Regions from separate parts of the Homo sapiens genome. Here region 1 is linked to region 2. Evidence: fine-mapped expression QTL. A gene starts in region 2. The other region holds a variant in brackets. All regions are shown on one strand. Distances are between the middles of the regions.

What was found. PIP is the estimated chance that this variant, and not a neighbour inherited with it, causes the effect.
Region 1: its variant is fine-mapped to the expression of CLEC2A in whole blood (TOPMed, PIP 0.98).

What each region holds. Positions count from the first base shown.
Region 1 is chr12:9,962,365-9,972,988 of GRCh38, forward strand. CLEC12A (C-type lectin domain family 12 member A) reads left to right here and starts at 9,045. Exons shown (of 6, transcript NM_138337.6): 1 at 9,045-9,323. The coding sequence starts at 9,233. The variant G/C (reference allele first, on the strand shown) is at 4,696.
Region 2 is chr12:9,926,714-9,937,337 of GRCh38, forward strand. It overlaps CLEC2A (C-type lectin domain family 2 member A), which reads right to left and starts at 5,657. Exons shown (of 5, transcript NM_001130711.2): 1 at 5,562-5,657. The coding sequence starts at 5,616. It overlaps LINC02470 (long intergenic non-protein coding RNA 2470), which reads right to left. Exons shown (of 5, transcript NR_104634.2): 5 at 9,866-10,101.

The sequences.
Region 1 (10,624 bases), 36 kb after region 2:
TCTCCAAATTTTTATCCCTGTGCACTTTTCTTCACCTGTCTTCATTTCTTTCCCTTTTTTCCGTTATAACTTTCACTCACATCCGTGTGAAGAGACCACCAAACAGGCTTTGTGTGAGCAACAAGGCTGTTTATTTCACCTGGGTGCAGGTGGGCTGAGTCCGAAAAGAGAGTCAGCGAAGGGAGATAGGGGTGGAGCTGTTTTATAAGATTTGGGTAGGTAGTGGGAAATTACAGTCAAAGGGGGCTTGTTCTCTGGCGGACAGGAGTGGGGGCCACAAGGTGCTCAGTGGGGGAGCTTTTGAGCCAGGATGAGCCAGGAGAAGGAATTTTATAATGTCATCAGTTAAGGCAGGAACAGACCATTTTCACTTCTTTTGTAGTGGAATGTCATCTGTTAAGGCAGGAACCGGCCATCTGGATGTGTATGTGCAGGTCACAGGGGATAGGATGGTTTAGCTTGGGCTCAGAGGCCTGACATTCCTGTCTCCTTATATTAATAAGAAAATAAAAATGAAATAGTGGTAAAGTGTTGGGACGGCAAAAATTTTGGGGGCTTGGTATGGAGAGATAACGGGCGATATTTCTCAGGGCTGCTTCCAGCGGGATTAGGGGCGATGTGGGAACCTAGAGTGGGAGAGATTAAGCTGAAGGAAGATTTCATGCTAAGGGGTGATATTGTGGAGTTGCTAGAAGAAACATTTGTCATTTAGAATTATTCGTGATGGCCTGGATACGGTTTTGTATGAATTGAAAAACTAAACAGAATAAGAGAAGGAGAAAAACAGGTATTAAAGGACTAAGAATTGGGAGGACCTAGGACATCTAATTAGAGAGTGTCCAAGGGGGTTCAGCATAATTACTTACTTGGTTGGCAAGTTTTTGGGCTCTATCCTTGAGTTTTTTATGTTGTCATACACCAGGCCAGATTGATTTAGGTAGAAACAACACTCTTCATTTAAGAATATACAGAGTCCTCCTTTTTCAGCAGTGACTAAGTCAAGGCCTCAGCGGTTTTGGAGGACAACTGCAGCTAAAGAGTCAACTTGGGCCTGGAGGACTGATAAAGTTTGTGATATGTCTGTGATGCTAGCAGAGAAGACACTAGAGAGGCTATGGAAGGTCGTGACAGAGGTTGAAATGCCTCCTATTCCAGTACCGAGAGCAATAGTGGAGGCAGAAAGTCTTAAACTGATAAGCAAGGGAATTAGTGGAATAACTCTTTTTTGTCGTGTCGGTGTCATGAGGGGAACAGGGAGCTCTTCGGTCCTATTTGCAAATTGAATTTTAGGAGTAAGGAAAACTAGTGTGCATGTACCTGTCCAATTAGCAGGTAGACACATGGAGGTAGAGGATCCACAGAGGAAGAAGAGACCTTGTGCGAGGCAAAACTGGAGAAGCAAAGTAAAAAGATGAGAAGGAGTGCTGAAAGGGGTGTCTTGTACCCAGACTCCTGGGGATCCAGCTAGGGCAGCAGCCATCAGAGGTTGTAATGGGGACTGGTGGGGTAACTGCGTAGAGGGGGAGGTTCGATTTTCATGGTGTATGAGAAAATGTTGAGTGTCTATGAGCTACCTTTCACTGTTATTTATGGGGCTGGGTATAAGTAAACAACAAGAGGGCTTTGGAGATGAAGAGTAAAGGAACATCAAAGTGAAAGGTTACCCAGGGGAATTCCAGTGGGTCTTTGCTGAGAGATACATAAAGGAGCAGCCACAGGAATAGTAGTTTGTGTTGTGAGAGGTAAATACGGGGGGAGTAGAGTTGATACAAGGAGAAAGGTTTTTTAAGTAAGTGTGGAGGAGGGCGGCAGCTTGCTGACGTGAAATGTCTGGGGAGGTCTAGCTGGACCTGTCTAGAAAGTAAATGAGTTCATCAGGAGGGTAAAGGTGAGGGCTGTTAAAGGAAGTTTGGAGGTGTAGGAGACAGGAGATGTTGCCTAGTCTGCATGTAAGGTGGGGACAGCTGTGTAGGCATTGGAAGAAAGGGAAATGCAAAGCTAGAGTTTGTTCGCTAAGGAGGGATTAGAAACAGCTAGGAGAGAATGAGTAATGTTTATAGTGTGGTGGAGATAGCTGGGGAGAGGTAGAGGGTGGCATAAGAATGGGAATGAGAATAAGATTGAGTATAAAAGTAAAGAATAGAACTTCATCAGGGTGAAAGTATTGGAGGGTCCCCTGCCAGCAAAGATTATCTATCCCCTCTGAGAGGGAGTTAAGAGTTGCCAGTCCTGGGTGGGGGCAAATCCTCGAGCTTGATGTGTAGGGAAAGGAGGGGGCCTGAATAATCTATGAGGAGGAGTAGAATAGTAGATGGAACAGAAGTTATTTCCTTGAGGATAGATTTCCACGATGGAAAGGAAATGAGAGGTTCTAAGAGGTGGGCTGGTGACTTGTACTATAGCATAGCCTGCCTTTGCTGGTGTGTGGCGATTAGGCCTGGTGGAACTACTATGAATAAACTAAGTGTGTTCAGGGTGAGGAACACGAAAGAAGGAAATATGAGGAAAAGGGGTGAATGTCAGGTGAATCAGAGAGATACAGTCATAGGGGTCAGGTGTGGTATCCAGAATACTGTGGGAGGCTGGATTGAAGTCTGGGCCAGGAACAATGGTAATTGTCAGAGACTTAACAAAAAGGGAGTGTAGCTGAAGGAGCCAGGGAGCAGAAAGTGTATGCGTCAGGTGGGAGAAAGAAAATAGATTTTGGAAATTATGAGAACCGTAGAGAATGAGTTGGGCATAGTTTGTGATTTTTTGGGCCTCTAAAAGTATTAAAGCAGCGGCAGCCACTGCATGCAGACATGAGGGCTAGGCTAAAATGGTAAGGTCAAGTTGTTTGGACAGAAAGGCTACAGGGTGCGGTCCCAGCTCTTGTGTAAGAATTCTGACTGCCCTAACCATGCCTAGGAAGGAAAGGAGTTGTTGTTTTGTAGAAGGGATTGGGGTTTGGGAAATTAGCCGGACATGATCAGCAGGGAGAGCACATGTGTTTTTATGAGAATTATGCTGAGATAGGTAAGAGATGAGGAAGAAATTTGGGCTTGACTGAAGTAATGGGGGCTGTCTGTGAAGCCTTGCGGCAATACAGCCTAGGTAATTTGCTGAGTCTGATGGGTGTCAGGGTCAGTCCAAGTGAAAGTGAAGAGAGGCTGGGATGACGGGTGCAAAGGAATAGTAAAGAAAGCATGTTTGAGACCCAGAACAGAATAATGGGTTGTGGAGGGAGATATTGAGGATAGGAGAGTATATGGATTTGGCACCATGGGGTGGTTAGGCAAAACAATTTGGTTGATAAGGCACAGATCCTGAACTAACCTGTAAGCCTTGTCTGGTTTTAGGACAGGTAAAATGGGGGAATTGTAAGGGGAGTTTATAGGCTTTAAAAGGCCATGCTGTAGCAGGAGAGTGATAATAGGCTGTAATCCTTTTAAAGCGTGCTGTGGGATAGGATATTGGCATTGAGCGGGGTAAGGTGATTAGGTTTTAATGGGATGGTAAGGGGTGCAGGATCAGTCGCTAAGGAGGCAGTAGAGGTGTCCTATACTTGTGGGTTAAGGTGGGGAGATACAAGGGGAGGATGTGAAGGAGGCTTTGACCTGGGGGAAAAGGTGGCAATGAGGTGTGGCTGTAGCCTAGGAATAGTTAGGGAAGCAGATAATTTAGTTAAAGTGTCTCAGCCTAATAAGGGAACTAGGCAGGTGGGGATAACTAAAAAGGAGTGCTTAAAAGAGTATTGTCTAAGTTGGCACAAGAGTTGGGGAGTTTTAAGAGGTTTAGAAGCCTGGCCATCAGTACTTACAACAGTTATGAAGGCAAGGGAAACAGGCCTTTGAAAAGAAGGTAATGTGGAGTGGGTAGCCTCCGTATTGATTAAGAAGGGGACGGGCTTACCCTCCACTGTGAGAGTTACCTAGAGTGTCTGTGATGGTCCTGTAGGCTTCTGAGGTGATTGGGCAGTGACAGTCTTCAGTTGTTAAGCCGAGAAGATCTGGGAAGGAGTCAGTCAGAGAGCCTTGGGGCAGAGTTCCAGGGGCTATGGGAGTGGCTGCCGGTGAGATGGACAGTCTGATTTCCAGTGGGGTCTTGCACAGATGGGACATGGCTTAGGAGGAATCTTGGGCTGCGGGCATTCTCTGGCCAGGTGGCCAGATTTCTGGCACTTTTAGCAAGCTCCTGGGGGAGGCAGGCCTGGAGGAATGCCTGGCCACTGTGGTTTAGGCGTTTGGAAGTTCTTGCGTGCTGGAGATGTGGCTGGGGTTTGTCTCACAGTGGAGGCAAGGAATTGCAACTCAGAAATATGTTGCTACTTTGCTGCCTCTACTTTATTATTGTACACTTTGAAGGCGAGGTTAATTAAGTCCTGTTGTGGGGTTTGAGGACTGGAATTTAATTTTTGGAGTTTTATTTAATGTCGGGAGCAGATTGGGTAATAAAATGTATATTGAGAATAAGACGGCCTTTTGACCTTTTAGGATCTAGGGCTGTAAAGCGTCTCAGGGTTGCTGCCAAACGAGCCATGAACTGGGCTGGGTTATTATATTTGATGAAAAAGAGCCTAAACGCTATCTGATTTGGGATAAAGAAAAAGGAACATTAACCTTGACTATGCCTTTAGCTCCAGCCACCTTTTTAAGAGGAAATTGCTGAACAGGTTGGGGAGGGCTAGTCATGGAATGAAACTGTAAGCTGGGCCAG[G/C]TGTGAGGAGAGGAGGTGATAAAAGGATTACAGGGTGGAGAAGTGGAGGCTGAGGAAGAATTGGGACCTAGCTCGGCCTGGTGAGGAGGCGAGAGGTCACATGGGTTTGTAGAAAAGGAAGATTAGAAAGACTCAGCGATGCTTGGGGTTGGGACTGAGGGGACAGGCGGGAGGGAAAGAAGGAAGATTTGGGATGAGTTGCATTGGGAACAGAGACTAGGGAGGGACCAATGTGTAAAAGAATGCCTGGACGTCAGGCACCTCAGACCGTTTGCCTATTTTACAACAAGAATTATTTAGATCTTGTAGGATGGAAAAATGGAAAGTGACATTTTCTGGCTATGTGGAACTACTGTCGAGTTTGTATTGGGGTCAAGTGGCATTGCAGAAGAAAATAAGGCATTTAGGTTTTAGGTCAGCTGTGAATTGAAGAGGTTTTAGGTTTTTAAGAGCACAGGCTAAGGGAGAAGAAGGGGGAATGGAGGGCGGAAGCTTGCCCATAGTGAAGGAGGCAAGCCCAGAGAGAAGAGAGAGTAGAGACATGGAGAGAAGGGGTTGGGGGTTCTTGCCCCCAAGAAGAGCGGTACTTGCCGCTAAGGGTGAAGGAGAAGGGGTTGGGGGGTTCTTGCCCCCCAGAAAAGCGGAGAAGGGGTAGAGACATGGAGAAAAGCGGTGGGGTTCTTGCCCCCCAGAAAAGCAGAGAAGGAGTAGAGACACGGAGAGAAGGGGTTGGGGGTTCTTGCTCCCAAGAAAAGCAGTACTTGTCGCTAAGGGTGAAGGACCAAGGCAGGTGTCCCCACATGGTCAGACACCTCTGAAACATGGGTGAATAATCAGGCAGGCATCCCTGCCTGATTCCAAAGGGAAGACTGTCTTCCCAATTCCGTGACTGGTGCCGGAGTTTTGGGTCTATGAATAAAACGCGTCTCCTTCATCTCTGTCAGAAAAGGAAAGGAACTGAAATTAAGAGAGAGATTGAAGGGTGATGCCAAGATTGAAAGGAGAAAGAGGTTGAGGGATAGTGAGAGAGGTTGGAGAAGAGAGTAAAAAGAGGCCACTTACTGGATTTAAAATTGGTGAGATGTTCCTTGGGCTAGTTGGTCTGAGGACCAGAGGTCATAGGTGGATCTTTCTCATGGAATAAAGAGCAGGAGGACAGGGGATTGATCTCCCAAGGGAGGTCCCCTGATCCGAGTCACAGCACCAAATTTCACTCGCATCCGTGTGAAGAGACCACAAAACAGGCTTTGTGTGAGCAACAAGGCTGTTTATTTCACCTGGGTGCAGGTGGGCTGAGTCTGCAAAGAGAGTCAGCGAAGGGAGATGGGGTGGGGCTGTTTTATAAGATTTGGGTAGGTAAAGGAAAATTACATCAAAGGGGGGTTGTTCTCTGGCGGGCAGGAGTGGGGGTAACAAGGTGCTCAATAGGGGAGCTTTTGAGCCAAGATGAGCCAGGAGAAGGAATTTCAGAAGATAATGTCATCAGTTAAGGCAGGAACAGGCCATTTTCACTTCTTTTGTGGTGGAATGTCATCAGTTAACGCAGGAACCGGCCATCTGGATGTGTACATGCAGGTCATAGGCATATACACAGGCATATGATGGCTTAGCTTGGGCTCAGAGGCCTGACAATAACAACCCACAAAAAATATATAATTTAGGTAATGGATAATGTATCACTTATGTTTAATATTGGAAGACATCTGTAATTATATTTGCAGATTGTCTCTTAGTATTCAACTAGAATGAAAATTGATATAGGTTGATTTCATATCTTGTCTATTGCAAATAGTGCTGCAATAAACATGGGAGTGCAGGTATCTATAGTATATATACACAATGGAATATTATTTGGCCATAGAAGGAAATGAAATCCTGTCATTTGCAGAAACAGGAGTGGAACTGAAGGTCATTATGTTAACTGAAATAAGCCAGGCACAGAAAGACAAATATCACATGTTTCCACTCATATGTGAGAGCTAAAAGAATGAATCTCATGGAAGCAGAGAGTAGAATTGTGGTTACCAGAGGCTTAGAAAGGGGTGGTGGGGGATAAAGATAAGTTGGTTGGGTACAAAAATAAAATTAGATAGAAGGAACAAATTCTAGTATTTGATAGTACAGTGGGAAAACTATAGTTGACAATAATTTATTGTATATTTCAAAATAGCTAAAAGAGAAGAAATGTACTATTCCCAACAGAAGGAAAAGGTAAGTGTTTGACGGAATGAATATTCTTATTACCCTGATTTGGTCATTACACATTGTATACAGGTTTCAAAATATCACATGTACCTCCAAAATACATACAACTATTTTGTATCAATAACAAAATTTTTAAAAAACTGATATAGGCTGTGAAGGGCAAACCATGTAGTCATCTCAGAGCTCAGCTTATTCTTGTGGATATAAATGTTTTAGCTGGCTCTAAACCAAGGATTTTGTATGAAGTAATACTTATTCAAATATTTTCAACAAAATAGAGTACCTTGCAAACAGGACTTTGAGATTTTTCATTTGTTTCCCTTTACAGTTCGTCATATACGCTTCATCTTCTAGTGTTGATTGATGAAACAACGTTCCACATGAGACAGCAGAGCAATAGAACACAGAACAGGACTCTGCCTGTGTGGTGGCCGGTTTCCATCCTTTCACAAACAAAGAGATATTTATAAACAAATATTTATATGCAAATATTTGATCCACCTAGGAAAAATAGAGGGCTACTCTTTCCCACCAGGAGAGGCCTTATAGCCTGTGCACATATTTGAACAAGGCAACCAGAGACTTTGATGGTCTCAACTCTACCACTCACCAACTGTGTGATGTTGGATACAAACTTAACCACTTTGCAACTCACTTCCGCATCTGTAAAATAAGGGTGATAATAATAGCACCTGGTTTAGAGAGTTGTAAAGATAAAAGCAACATTAGTAAAGTACTTAGGATGAAGTAATCATGTTTTGAATATATTTTCCTTTAAATGTGGCTGCCAATATTTTCATGGTAATATTTTCAAATGTATTCAATAGCTTTTTCTTTATCAGGAGAAAATCAGTTGTTTTAATTAAATTGACATTGAATTTTTGATACATTTAGGAGAATTTAGTTTCTTTTTATACAGTATTGACGCTTCTAATCCCACAGCATGTTTTTCTATTTTTTTCTTTTCTTCAATAGTTTTAAAATTTTTTTGTTCATTTTGGTTATGCAAATATCTAGTTAATTTCTATCTGTAATATTTTCCTATTTATTTTTAGTAGCTCTTATAAAGGGAGCATTTTGTTTTTCCTGTCTATCCTGACATAATAAAGCAATTAGTTTTTAATTGATTTTTAAAAATATTTATGCATTCTCTTTCATATGTATAATAATAATACCTAACCATTTTATGATTTACATGTGGCAATGTCAAGAAGAATTTTAAAGTAAGATTTACTAACGAATATTAGAGAACATGCTCAAAAACAGTCCTCTCCACCCCCTCACTTCCACTTGCATTCTTGATCAAGAAGTGAAATAAAAAATACTAAGACTATTGAGTCAAACTAATAAGACACAAATCTGGACTTTGGAGACTCATTTCCCTCCCACTTTTGATAGCTTAGCTGAGGAGGAGATCAAATGGTTGAGTCAGTCTGTAGAGAGATAGCAAGGCTGATTATAGTTTTCCTGGCCTGCAAAGCTGTTTCCAGAGCCCTCAGTATACAGACCTTGGCCATCAGTATGCATACTCTCTGGTGTGGTTTCTGGGCATCAGATCCCTTAATATATAGGTTGGCGCTAAAGTAATTTTGTAAACTTTTAATGGCAAAAACCACAATTACTTTTGCTTTTAATGGCAAAAACCAGAATTACTTTAGCACCAACCTATATATTGTTATTTAGAGAAACTAGGCATTCCCTACCTCTCTTAGGCAAACCTATAGCTATGTAACATGGCAACGGAATGACACTAACTGTCTCATTCTCCTTGGGAGTGCTCTCTGTATGTTCAGTCTCCCAGTGAAGAGAACCCTTCTATCAGGACCTTCATCATCATACAAAAGGAATATCTATGCCAGGCCACAGCTGCAGATTAGTGAGTGTCTGAGAACTGCATCTTTTCTGTTATTTTTCTGCTTGAAAGTTTTTCACCAATAAATCCTACACTATGTCTGCACCATGTGGTGCTAGTTATTTGTGTTCTCTTGCATGACACTGATGATGTTATCCAAACACAATTTCAAAAACTACTTTCTGTAGTTGGTAAATATATAGAAATTGAGAAAAAGGAAGAAATATGAGGAAGAAAGATGTTATCTGTTGCAACAGTTCAATGTTCTTAACTGAAGCCACAGATGAGATTTGGCTCATTTGCAGACATATGGGTGATTGGTACAGTAGGTTTATAAACAGAAGTTTAAACTTGTAAGCTTAAGCTTCCGTTTATAAACAGAAGTTTAAAATTATAGGTCCTGTTTAACATTCAGCTCTGTTAACTCACTCATCTTTTTGTGTTTTTACACTTTGTCAAGATTTCTTTACATATTCATCAATGTCTGAAGAAGTTACTTATGCAGATCTTCAATTCCAGAACTCCAGTGAGATGGAAAAAATCCCAGAAATTGGCAAATTTGGGGAAAAAGGTAAGATTTTGAGTTATGGATGTGTTGTAAGTTTGTATAATAGAAGTGGTTATAGACTTGCATCTTCAATATTAGTGATATAGTTACTATTCAACTTAAATTTTCAATTAAGTCTCTTATGTTTAAGCAAAGGAACAAAAAGTGTATGAACAAAATGATTAGAAAAAAGGGTTTTGTAAAAACACTTATCTCTGCATTGAATAATCAATCTTTTACATTTTTGAAATTTTTTATTATCACACTCAATATAATTGGGACAGAATTTTTCAAATGATTGGGTTGTATGAAGATTTTATTTCTTTATGAGATGAAGCCATGGAAAAAGAAACATGTTCAGGAAAGTCATGATTTCATATGTGTGTGTGTGTGTGTGTTTTTTTTTTTATAAGAAAATGCTTTGTGTCAGACAGAGAGACCTTTATAGGATTTCATTTGACTATCTACCAAACTAAGCATAAATCACCCTAAAATTTCTCCTACTTCTTTTGGAGATTTTTTACTAACTTACTAAAAAATAAAACATGTTAAGTTAAATGAAATGAATCATTAAGGAATAAAGGAAGAAAAGAGGTAAAGAAATATCAGAAGACATAATATATTCATAATATTCAAAACCACATTATATCAAGTAACTTTGTATTTTTCAATTCAAATTAAAATCATGAAATAAGTGGTCCATCTGTGTTGACTTTCACTTAAACAAAACTACTCTTCATCTTACTCAGAATCCTATAGTTTTCCTATTATGTATGGTTCTTGCCTTCTGGCTCCTAGCCTTTTGGGAGTGAAATCTGCCCTAGCGAATCCATAGTTTAAATCAGTGTATTTGAGTTAAAAATAACTTAAACAGTGATAGTGGAGAACACAAAGAAGGGTGATAGAAACAGAAAAATAAGGAGAGAAGAGTGCCAAAATTCTCACATATTATTTAAGTTGTTGTCCTCTCTCCTCTCCCCACACAGAATATAACATCTTTAATATTCTAGCATTGCTATAAACAGAAATTTCACTGTTACATCTTGGATCCATTTATGATGAGCATTGTAAATCTTGAGAAAGGATAGCAGATTAATTCTGTTGGCTTCTTTTTTAATACTGAAATTTTTTTTTAGAAAGAAGAAGGGTTTAAGAATTTTACAATATTTTCTGTCTTTATTTCCTTGTTTATATTTCTTCTTTTATACACTGAAAGAGAATGGGCATATCATGAGCCTAATATTACCAACAATTGCCCTTTACTTGTCCTCTCACACCCTTTCCCACCTCTTTTCCTGCCAATCCACCTTAAGTTCCCACCACAA
Region 2 (10,624 bases):
AAGGCAATAGGATTAAAGACAGGAAAGAAAGGAGTCATAAGGTCATGACAGAAGACCTTAAATGAGAGATATATTTTTCTTTATTCTTTAAGCCATGGAGGAAATAAACAATGTGTTTCAGCCAGAGAATATTCAAGATAAAAGCAGTAATTTATTTATTTGTGGTAAGCAAACAAAATTAGAGAAAACTCAGGATTTGACACTCGTGGAAATGCTATGAGGTTAAGAACAAATAATAATTCTATTAATGATAAAGTAATTGTAGCTGATATATCATTAGTAGATGTAGAAACAATCTAGGAAGAATGTGCGTGTATGTGTGTGTCTGTGTGTGTGTGTGTACAGTCATGCATAGCTTAGCAATGGGGAGATATTTTGAGAAATGTGCCTTTAGGTGATTGTGTCATTGTTGGAACATCATAGAATGTACTTACACAAACTTAGACAGTATAGCCTACTAACACCTAGGCTATATATTACAGACTGTTGCTCCTAGACTACAAAACTGGATAGCATGTTATCGTACTAATTACTGCAGGCAATTATAACACAATGCTAAATGCTTGCGTCTAAACATAGAAAAGGTACAGTGAAAATACCATATAAAAGATCAAAAATGGTACACCTTTACAAGGCAGCTTCATTGTAATCTTATGGGACCATTGTTGTTATGCAATCTGTCATTGACCAAAACATTGTTCTATGGTGCATGACTATATGTGTATATCGTGCATATATGCATAAACACAGATTATATATATGTATGCATGCCTATATGCATATATATGCTTTATATGTATGTATATATACATGTACATATACATACATATATTTAAATATCAGAAAAGAGGACTTGAAGAAAGAAAAATTTAAAAAGAAGTCATGTTTTCTCTCTTTCTTCAGAACTTAAAGCAGCCTTAGTGAATGAAAACTTGAAAAAGTTACTAGTTTTCATGATCACCAGACTACAGATAATGTGCAATAAAGTAATTTCAAGACTGGATTGAGAGAAGCCAGATTCTGAGATGTTTACAAAGAGAATGTTTGATAGGAAGAAGAGTTTGGTAATTTATCTTACATCTAGAGAAACAATAGCTAAAGATAGAAAACATAAAATGTGTTTTTTTTTTCAAGATTAGGGAGAAATGAAGAACAAGGAAGAAGAAAAGATAAAAACCACTGCACAAATTTCAGACACCCAAAATAGTAATTTGTGGGCAAAGCCATGTCTTACACAAAAGGTATTGAAACAATTGAGAAAAAAAGGCTTTACCATACGACAACATCAGCTTACAAAATTTATTTAAGACGTATTATTGACCTGAACATAAAACCTGAAACCATACAATTTCTAGAAAACATAAAATAGTTTGTGACCATGAGAATTAGTAAAGCTGTCTTAGAGAAAGAAGAGAAAGTACAGTGTAAAATTAAAAGAAAATGATAAATTGAATTTAATTGAAATTTAAGGGCTGGGCACAGTGGCTCATGCCTGTAATCCCAGCACTTTGGGAGGCCAAGGAGGGTGGATCACCTGAGGTCAGGAATTTGAGACCAGCCTGGCCAACATGGTGAGACCCCTTCTCTACTAAAAACACAAAAAATTAGCTGTGCATGATGGCAGGCACCTGTAATCCCAGCTACTCGGGAGGTTGAGGCAGGAGAATACTTGAACCCAGGAGGCGGAGGCTGCAGTGATCAGAATTATGCCACTGCACTCCAGCCTGGGTGACAGAGTGAGGCTCTGTCTTAAAAAAGAAAAAGAAAGAAAGAAAGAAGAAGGAAAGAAAGAAAGAAAGAAACCTCTGCCCATTTCAAGATACAAGACACTGTTGTGAATATAAATATGCAAGTTACAGACTGGGAGAAAATAGTCACAATATGTGTATGCAAAAAAGACTGGTATCGAAAATACTAAAAGGTCTGTAGTTTAGAGATATAGTACAAACAACTTGATAAAAAAAAGAACCAAAGTCTTGAACAAATACTTACAGAAGAATACACGCAAGTGAGCAATAAGCACATAAAAGATGTTCCATATTATTAGTCACAAGCAAAATGCAGAATAAAACCACAATGGAATATGACTACATGCCACTTGCACTGTTAAAATGAAAAAGACTGACAGCACCAAGTGTTAGCAGGATATAGGGGAACCGAAACACATACACAACTGGTTGAAGTACAAAAATGTATAAGTGTTTTGGAAAATTCTTTAGCAGTTTTTATTTTTAATTAAAATATATGTCCTTCATTCCTGTTCTGGCATGTGATATTTGCAATAGATTGGAAGTCATCCCTACTGTTCTCACAGTGACAACAAAAAAAAAGCTGAGAAAACTAAATAAAAACAACACTTCTAGTATACAGAAATAGTATTGATTTGTTAAATGTGCTCTTTTAAGTAACCCTCTTGAACTCTGGTATTATTTTTAATAGTTTTCTAGTTGATTCTATTGGTATTTATTTTTATATAATCAAATTATCTGAAAATATTGCAGATACAACTCTTCCATTGCAATCCTTGTCCTTTATAATTCCTTTTGTTTTCTTATATCACTGGTTACCTTTAGCATTGTACTACACTATTGCTAAACAGTAGTAGTTACAGTGAACATTTTTTTCTTGTTTTTAATCTTAAATGGAATGTTTAAATTTTCATTATTAAGCACTGTAAAAATGCTGTATAAATTTAACATACAACATTAGCAATTTAAAAAAGAATTTTTCTATTCCTAGTTTCTTAACAGGGACTTATCTCAGATAGACATTGAATGTTATCATGTTTCCTTGTTGTTATCAAATGCACTTACTGAATAATTGTGTGGACTTTCTTTCAAAAAATTTTAATATTTTTTGCACTGATATTCTGATATCTAAGCATTCCTAACATAAATCCACTTGTATATGAATTTTTAACTGCTTTGTTGTATATAGTAAATAAATATTTTCTTGGAATTTCTACTTCTAATTTCATAAGAAGATGAGTCTGTTTCTTTTTGTCTTGTTCTGACTTTGTTTGGAAATCAAAAAGTCTATTAAATCGGGGTAAATTTCTCATTTTGCTGTTTTTTGAAGCAAGATGTCCAATACAAAAATTAGCTATTTCTTGAAAGATCAGTAGATTACTCTATTTTAGTTGCCTTTTCAATGTATTTATTTTTAATTTCTATAATTCTATAATTATTTATTTCTTCTCATTACATTTTGGCATTTTATATTTTTTAGACCTCTACCTTCTTTTTTTAATATTTATAAGCGCATTAGTGTTTTAGTTTGCTAGGCCTGCCGTAACAAGTTGTCACAAACTGGGCGGCTAAAATTAACAGGAATGTATTGTCGTACAGTTCTGGAGACAAGAAGTCTGAAATTAAGATGTTGGTCGGATGGGTTCCTTGTGAGGCCTGTAAGGAAAGAATCTGTTCCAGGCCATTCTCCTTGGCTTGAAGATGGCATTCTCCCTGTATATGGATCCGTCTCTAAATTTTCCTTTTTTATGAGAACACCAGTAATATTAAATTAGGTCCCAACCTACCGACCTAATTTTAACGTGGTAAAGACACTATCTCCAAACCAGATCACATTCTGAGGTAGAGGGGGTTAGAGCCTCAATATATAAAATTTTAAGGGAACAGAGTTTGCCCCATAATAATTGATGAATTATTTCCATAATGTTTTATTAAATTTTAATATTTGTGGTTTTTGTGATTATTTGTACTTTTTTGATATTTTCTTTATTGTATCGTCTTCTGCAAACTTTTAGACATCTAGTTCTCTCGTCTTTTCTAATAGCCACCATTTGATTTGTTATCCCTCTCATTTCTTCTCTTTTTCACTAACGTCTCCTATTATCTCATTTTTTAATTTTGTATATTTTTCTTTCACTCTATTGTGCCAGATGCATGTTTTTTTCTTATCTATTTTGTTTGTACACTTTTGAAGTTTCAGTTTGAGGTATTTGGCTTTTATTAGTTTTAGAAGTTGGAATATTATTTCTTCAAATATTTCCTATCCGCTATTCTTTTTTTCTCTCTCTCTGTTTCAGATTCTTGTTATCTAGAAGGTGGCATTTCTACTTCTATTTTTCATATCTCTCAGCTTTTATTTTATATTTTCTAACTGTTTTCTTTTCTGTCATGTTTTTAATAGCATCTCCTAGGTCTTATTCATTCTTAATCAGCGTCCATTCTATTAATTAACTCCTCAAAGTGTTCTTTATTTCAAACACTATATTTCTATAATTATTATTTTCACTTGGTTTTTATTGTGTTCTTGGTGCTTCTTCATTTCATTAATATCTTTTCTTTTGGAGCATTTTTATTATGCTTTAATTAAATTCTCAGACTAGATGTTCTAATGATTCCTGCAGCCCGGCTTTCTCATAATCTTCCAGTACATGCTTCACAGTACTTCATATTTTGTCTTCTCGTTATGCAATGAGATAAATTTTCTTCCACTTTTTACTCTCTAAACTCTTAAATCTGTTACCCAGACAAGCCTGACTAATTTATTTGGCTAAAGGGATGGAATCTTATTTCTTTTTGTAATACTAATGTCCAATTGTGTAAAATGTAGACTAATTTTTAAAAATTTTCTTATGAAGTTTTCATAGATCAAGAGTTCGTAACTATGACCAATAGTTAGAATATACAACGAAGTAAATTTAACCTTACCCTAAAGAAACTTCTAAATAGAACATCCTTAAATTAAAATGGAAAGTCTTCTAAGACAGAGAGATATTATCACTGAAAACATTCTAGTATAGGCTGCTAGAAATGCTGTAGCTAGAAATCGTATGGTAGATGAAAAGTTTTACTAGGTAGCTACTGAGGTCTCTTCAACCTTTAAGAGTATCAGGCTTACTTATTATTAAAAGAATTATCCCAATTGCCCTGGGAATTCATATCAGTAAACTCTGATAGTGGTTTCAGCTGGAGTCCTTAACTCATTTCAAGATTTTACTTTTTATCTCTTCACTGTCTTTATCTTAAAGTTTTGGCAGGCTTCCTATTCCAGTCATTTGGCATACAATTCATTCGTTTTCTTTAACATAAACCCTCAGAACTATTGTGAATGGAGGGTGTTTGTATGTGTACCTTGTTTTTATTTATTGGTTTGTTTATGTTTCAATCCACTGAAAACAAACTTCATTGTTGGCCTTAGCTGAATCTTAAAATTTTTGAAAAGTTCTTTTCAGTCTTATGAAGTCACAATCATCAAGCCTCCTTCCAGAGTGAAGCATTTGCTTTTTATTCTGTATAAAAGTGTTAAGCAATTTTTTCCCTGTGAAAGTACATTTTAAAAATATTCTTATTGAGATATAATACACGTACCATAAAATTCTGCCCCAAAACCTTCTTACACACAAGCTTATACCCTCTCTTGCAGACATAAAACTCTACATGCTCTAACAGGCTTCCACAATTCTCCGGAAGTGCTTCCCCATCCCTCACTTACTTTAGTAGACTTTCACAGTAAGTAAAGAGTCCATATTTTTAAGCTGTCCTGTATTTTGTTTTATCTTTCCTTTACTTCCTTCTCATTCACTCTATAAAACTTACCTATCCGATGTATGAAGCCATCAGCTCTGCCATCCCGCAGCTCTGGATTAATCATGGCAAGGCGCTAACCGATGGAGATCAGTAGGAGAGGACTAGAAAGCTTTTCATGTACATCACTTATTTAGGCACTGAGCAAGCTTCAGTCAAAAGAGACTTAACCAATCCAAATGGAAAACATCAGTACTAATTTTAGATCAAAGATAAAAGTAGGCAGACTTGTTAGTTTAAGGAAGGAATTTAAAAATTAACTCATCCATAACAAAAGGATCGTAAAGTCAATCATGTAAACACCACAACAACCGTGCTATGGAACATTTCCATCATCTTTCTTTTTTTCCTTGTGTAATCACTATCTTTTCTGACCCTGGACCCTGGCAAGCATTACTTTGCTTTATATCAACATAGTTTTTCCTTTCATGGAATTTTTTTTTTTTGAGGCAGGGTCTCACTGTGTTGCCCAGGCTGGAGTGCAGTGGGGAAAACTTGGCCCATTGCAACTTTGACCTCCTTGGCTCAAGCAATCCTCCTGCCCTACCCACCCAAGTAGCTGGGACTACAGTCGCGCACCATCATGCCCTGCTAATTTTATTTTTTGTAGAGACTAGGTCTCATTATATTGCCCAGACTGGTCTTGAACTCCTGGGCTTAAGTGATCTTCTGGCTTCAGTCACCCAAAGTACTGGGATTACAGGCATGAGCCACCACGGCCAGCCCCTTTCATAGAATTTTATATAAATGGTATCATATAATATGTAGTGTCTTGTCTCTTGCTTATTTCATTTATAATACTTTTGAGATTCACTCAAGTTGTTGTGCAGGTAAGTAGTTCATTCCCTTTTATTTCTTAGTAGTATTCCTATTGCATGTTATACCAGAAATTATCTCTTTGATCACTAGTTGATGGACTTTTGTTTCTAGGGTGGGACTGTTATGTATGAAACTGCTGTACACAGGCATTTTTGTGTGAGCAAGTTTTCTCTTGGATAAATTCCCAGAAATTGAATTGCTGCATCATATAAGTATGTTTATCTTTATAAAAAGCTGTAAAACTGGCTGGGCGCGGTGTCTGTCACCTGTAATCCCAGCACTTGGGGAGGCCGAGGCGGGTGGATCATGAGGTCAGGAGATCGAGACTATCCTGGCTAACACAATGAAACCCCGTCTCTACTAAAAATACAAAAAATTAGCCGGGCCTGGTGGCGGGTACCTGTAGTCCCAGCTACTCGAGAGGCTGAGGCAGGAGAATGGTGTGAACCCGGGAGGCGGAGCTTGCAGTGAGCCGAGATCGTGCCACTGCACTCCAGCCTGGGCAACTGAGCAAGACTCCGTCTCAAAAAAAAAAAAAAAAAATTTGCTTCAGCCTGGAATCTTTGCTTTTGGTGCTTCGGTGCAGAGACAGAAAACGGGCACTCAGAGTCACACTGGTAGTTGCACACTGTATCTGCAGAGGGCGTGTCTCATCTGTACCCCGCTGGGTTACGGGATTTCAGGAGGTATTTTTGTCCACCTGCGAATTCCATTTATTACCTTTCATTTAACAGACAATGTCTTTCCTTTCTGCAGTTGATTTTGCTAAAGAGGCAATTCATAAGGTGAGGTCCTACTCATAGTATGACTTGCTTTCTCACGACCTCCTTCCATTTTTAGTAACTCCCTGGTCTATTTGGTGTCTGTAAAAAAAGAATCTGGTAATGGAGACTTCTTTTAATATGGAAATTTGGCCTGGCAATAACTTATTCCTTTCCACATGTAACTGACCCAATCTGGTTTCCAGATGACAAGTATGCAAGCCCCAGATGTTGAGAAGCCATATTTCAACTGCTTCCTGCATCTGTTGAAATATAATTGTTCATACTTGCCATCCCTTATGTTTCTTGTAACAATTTGCACAGTTCTTGCCAGAATAAATGCCATTCTCTGTATGCTTCAGAGAATTCCGCAATTTGATCAGTGTGTGTGTGTGTGTGTGTGTGTGTGACCTTCCGTAAAACACTTCTAAAGGGTGAAAGCTCTTGTATGGCATAGACATGAATTCCTTCCTCTGGTAATAATTAGGTTATTTCCAGAAGCACAGTGTCATTTTTTTTTTTTTTTTGAGATGGAGTTTCTCTCCTGTGGCCCAGGCTGGAATGCAATGGTGTGATCTCGGCTCACGCAACTTCCACCTCCTGGGTTCAAGTGATTCTCCTGCCTCAGCCTCCTGAGTAGCTGGGATTATGGGCATGCACCACCATGCCTGCCTAATTTTGTATTTTTAGTAGAGACGAGGCTTCTCCATGTTGGTCCAGCTGGTCTCGAACTCCTGACCTCAGGTTATCCACCCGCCTCGGCCTCCCAAAGTGCTGGGATTACAGGTGTGAGCCACCATGCCCAGCCCATTCTTTAAATAAAAGCTTTCCTGTTTAAGGCTTTTCAAAGGAGCAGACCACTTTGAAGATTCTCCCTAGGGTTGATATGTGTCTAATTCATTTTATAAAATTATTCTTATCTTCATTTTAAAGCTTTGGCTATACAGTCAGAAATGTCCTGGATAACAAACTATTTTGTATTTAATTTAATTTGCCTCTTCATTGTCTTATTCAACAAACATTTACAGAATGCCTAATTAGTACTTGGCATTTTTCAGGGTGCTTGAAATACGTCTGTGAACAAAATAGACACAGATTCCTTTACTCATGGGGTTTCCATTCCAGGAAGTTTAAACATAAAGACTAAAGATAGTAAACAAATGGTACAATATTCCATATTCCAGTATGTAATAAGTTCCACTGAAAACAAAAGATAGACCAGGTTAAAATTGATTAGTAATGTCAAGGTTGAGGAGTGTGAGCTGCAATTTTAATAGGGTAGTCAGGGTAAGCATCACTGAGAAAGTGAAATGTAAATGAACTTTGAGGAGGGAAAGTGCCATGTGGATACCATCATCCTGGTGGAATTGTGTGAAGATCCTAGGGCAGATGTATGCCTGGCACATTCCGGAAAGAGTGAGGAAGCCAGCTGTGTCTGGAGGAGAACAGTGAGAGAAGAGTTCAGCTAAGTACCAACAGGGTAATTCTGTTTTTGCCATTCTGAGGCCTGTGGCTAATATTCTAAGTGAAATGGGAAGATGGAAAATTCTTTTGAGCAGAATAGCGGTGTGATCTGACATACATTTAATATGTTCACTCTGGGTACTGTCCTCAGAATAAGTTGGAAGGGGATGCAATCCACTCACCTAGCCTGAATAACTATACTTAAAAATGTTCAAAGTTCTGCTCATGTTCATAAAATTCAACCCGCAGCCCATTATTTGTTCCTTTCTCTTTTCTTCTTTACCTGTCAAATTTTCTCCACTGGGCGCTCTGACTCCTTTTAACATTATTTCTATTTCAGTACAGCTGGATAGAAATGTCATCATTAGGAGATGCAAAGCGGTCCCCTTCTAATGTGATAGTCACCACTCCAGAGATGGCTAATGGAGATGTTTAATGACCTTAAAAATGCATAAGTCTCATTCCCCATCCTCCTTTTGCTAACGATGGTCATTTTTTGTAGCACAATAATCTGAAAATTTTAGAATTATTTTTGTTCTTGTACAGTACAGCATGTAAATTATAATTTAACAACACCTGCATTTAACCTGCTAACACGGTTTACACACTATTAAATCCCGGCCCCATAGAGAATGAGAAGATGAGATGCTGATAAAATTTGCTTCTGATGATGCTGAACATACCATCTATTTTTTCTCTTCTTTTTTTTTTGAGACGGGGTCTCGCTCTGTCACCCAGGCTGGAGTGCAGTGGCGCGATCTCTGCTCACTGCAAGCTCCGCCTCCCGGGTTCACACCATTCTCCTGCCTCAGGCTCCCGAGTAGCTGGGACTACAGGCGCCCGCCACCCCGCCCGGCTAATTTTTTCTATTTTTTAGTAGAGGGTAAGGGGTTTCACCATCTTACCCAGGATGGTCTCCATCTCCTGACCTCGTGATCCGCCCACCTCAGCCTCCCAAAGTGCAGGGATTACAGGCATGAGCCACCGCACCCGGCCAACCATCTATTTTTTCAATATTATTTTCCACATTGTTTGAATGTCTGTAATGTGTGTGAGACCCAGCTGAATTTAAAATGTGGTTCTACCATTTACTATAATCCCAGGTAAACAATCTTTCATTTGCTCATTTATTTCAGCAAAAAATGATAAAAATTCTTCATCATTTAGGGGTAAAAATATTTAGCATAGTTCATGGTACAAGTTAATACTCAAAAGAGAATTACTCATTATATCAGGAAATGTAAAAGCGAAGAAAAGAAAACTAGGCCAAAGTAAAATATTAAGAGGTGCAGAGACTTTAATATCAGCCAGATGTTAACCCTTGCCCTCTGTCCTTCTGAGACCCGTGTAAGTATTAGCTGGAATCTAAACCCCATAGGTTTGTGGGAATCCGGAGAACTCTCCATGATTTCTTCAAGTCACCAGGGCTTCCTTCTTCGTGGTCCTCTCCACTTCTAAATACTCACGTTTTGCTCCCATGACTCATAGCACAAAACTCGATTCTTTCACTAGTTTCAGCAACGACAGCAACAACAAATCCACTTAATGTAAATAATTCGCTAGTTTCATAACTTGACTAAAGACAAAACAAATAGATTAATTCTTTATTTACTGGACCTCCTGAGAAATAACTGAGCACAGCCTCGAAAATAGAACGTAAATTTCATTAGCCCGGTTTCTAAAACACGTGCAGTGTGGAAGGAGTAGAGGAAGTGAAACAAGCTGTTGCTCTCCTCCTATCTTTCTCCAAATTTTACCTCAGGACCCTGATGGCAGGAAGAAAAGGACACTATGTGACTTCAGTGCCTAACAACACAGTCCTGGAAGTTTACGCTGTTGATACTATAGCAAACATTGTAATCATTTTGTGAGGGATTGGATTCTTCCCTTTATACTGTAGCATAAACATTGATATATCAATGTGTTTAGCCATTTAGAAATTATAAAGAAGGGGAGTGTAACTGACATTTCATTGAACATACCTTTCATATATTACAAAATTGGTCTATTAATGCTGAAATAAATGTTCAC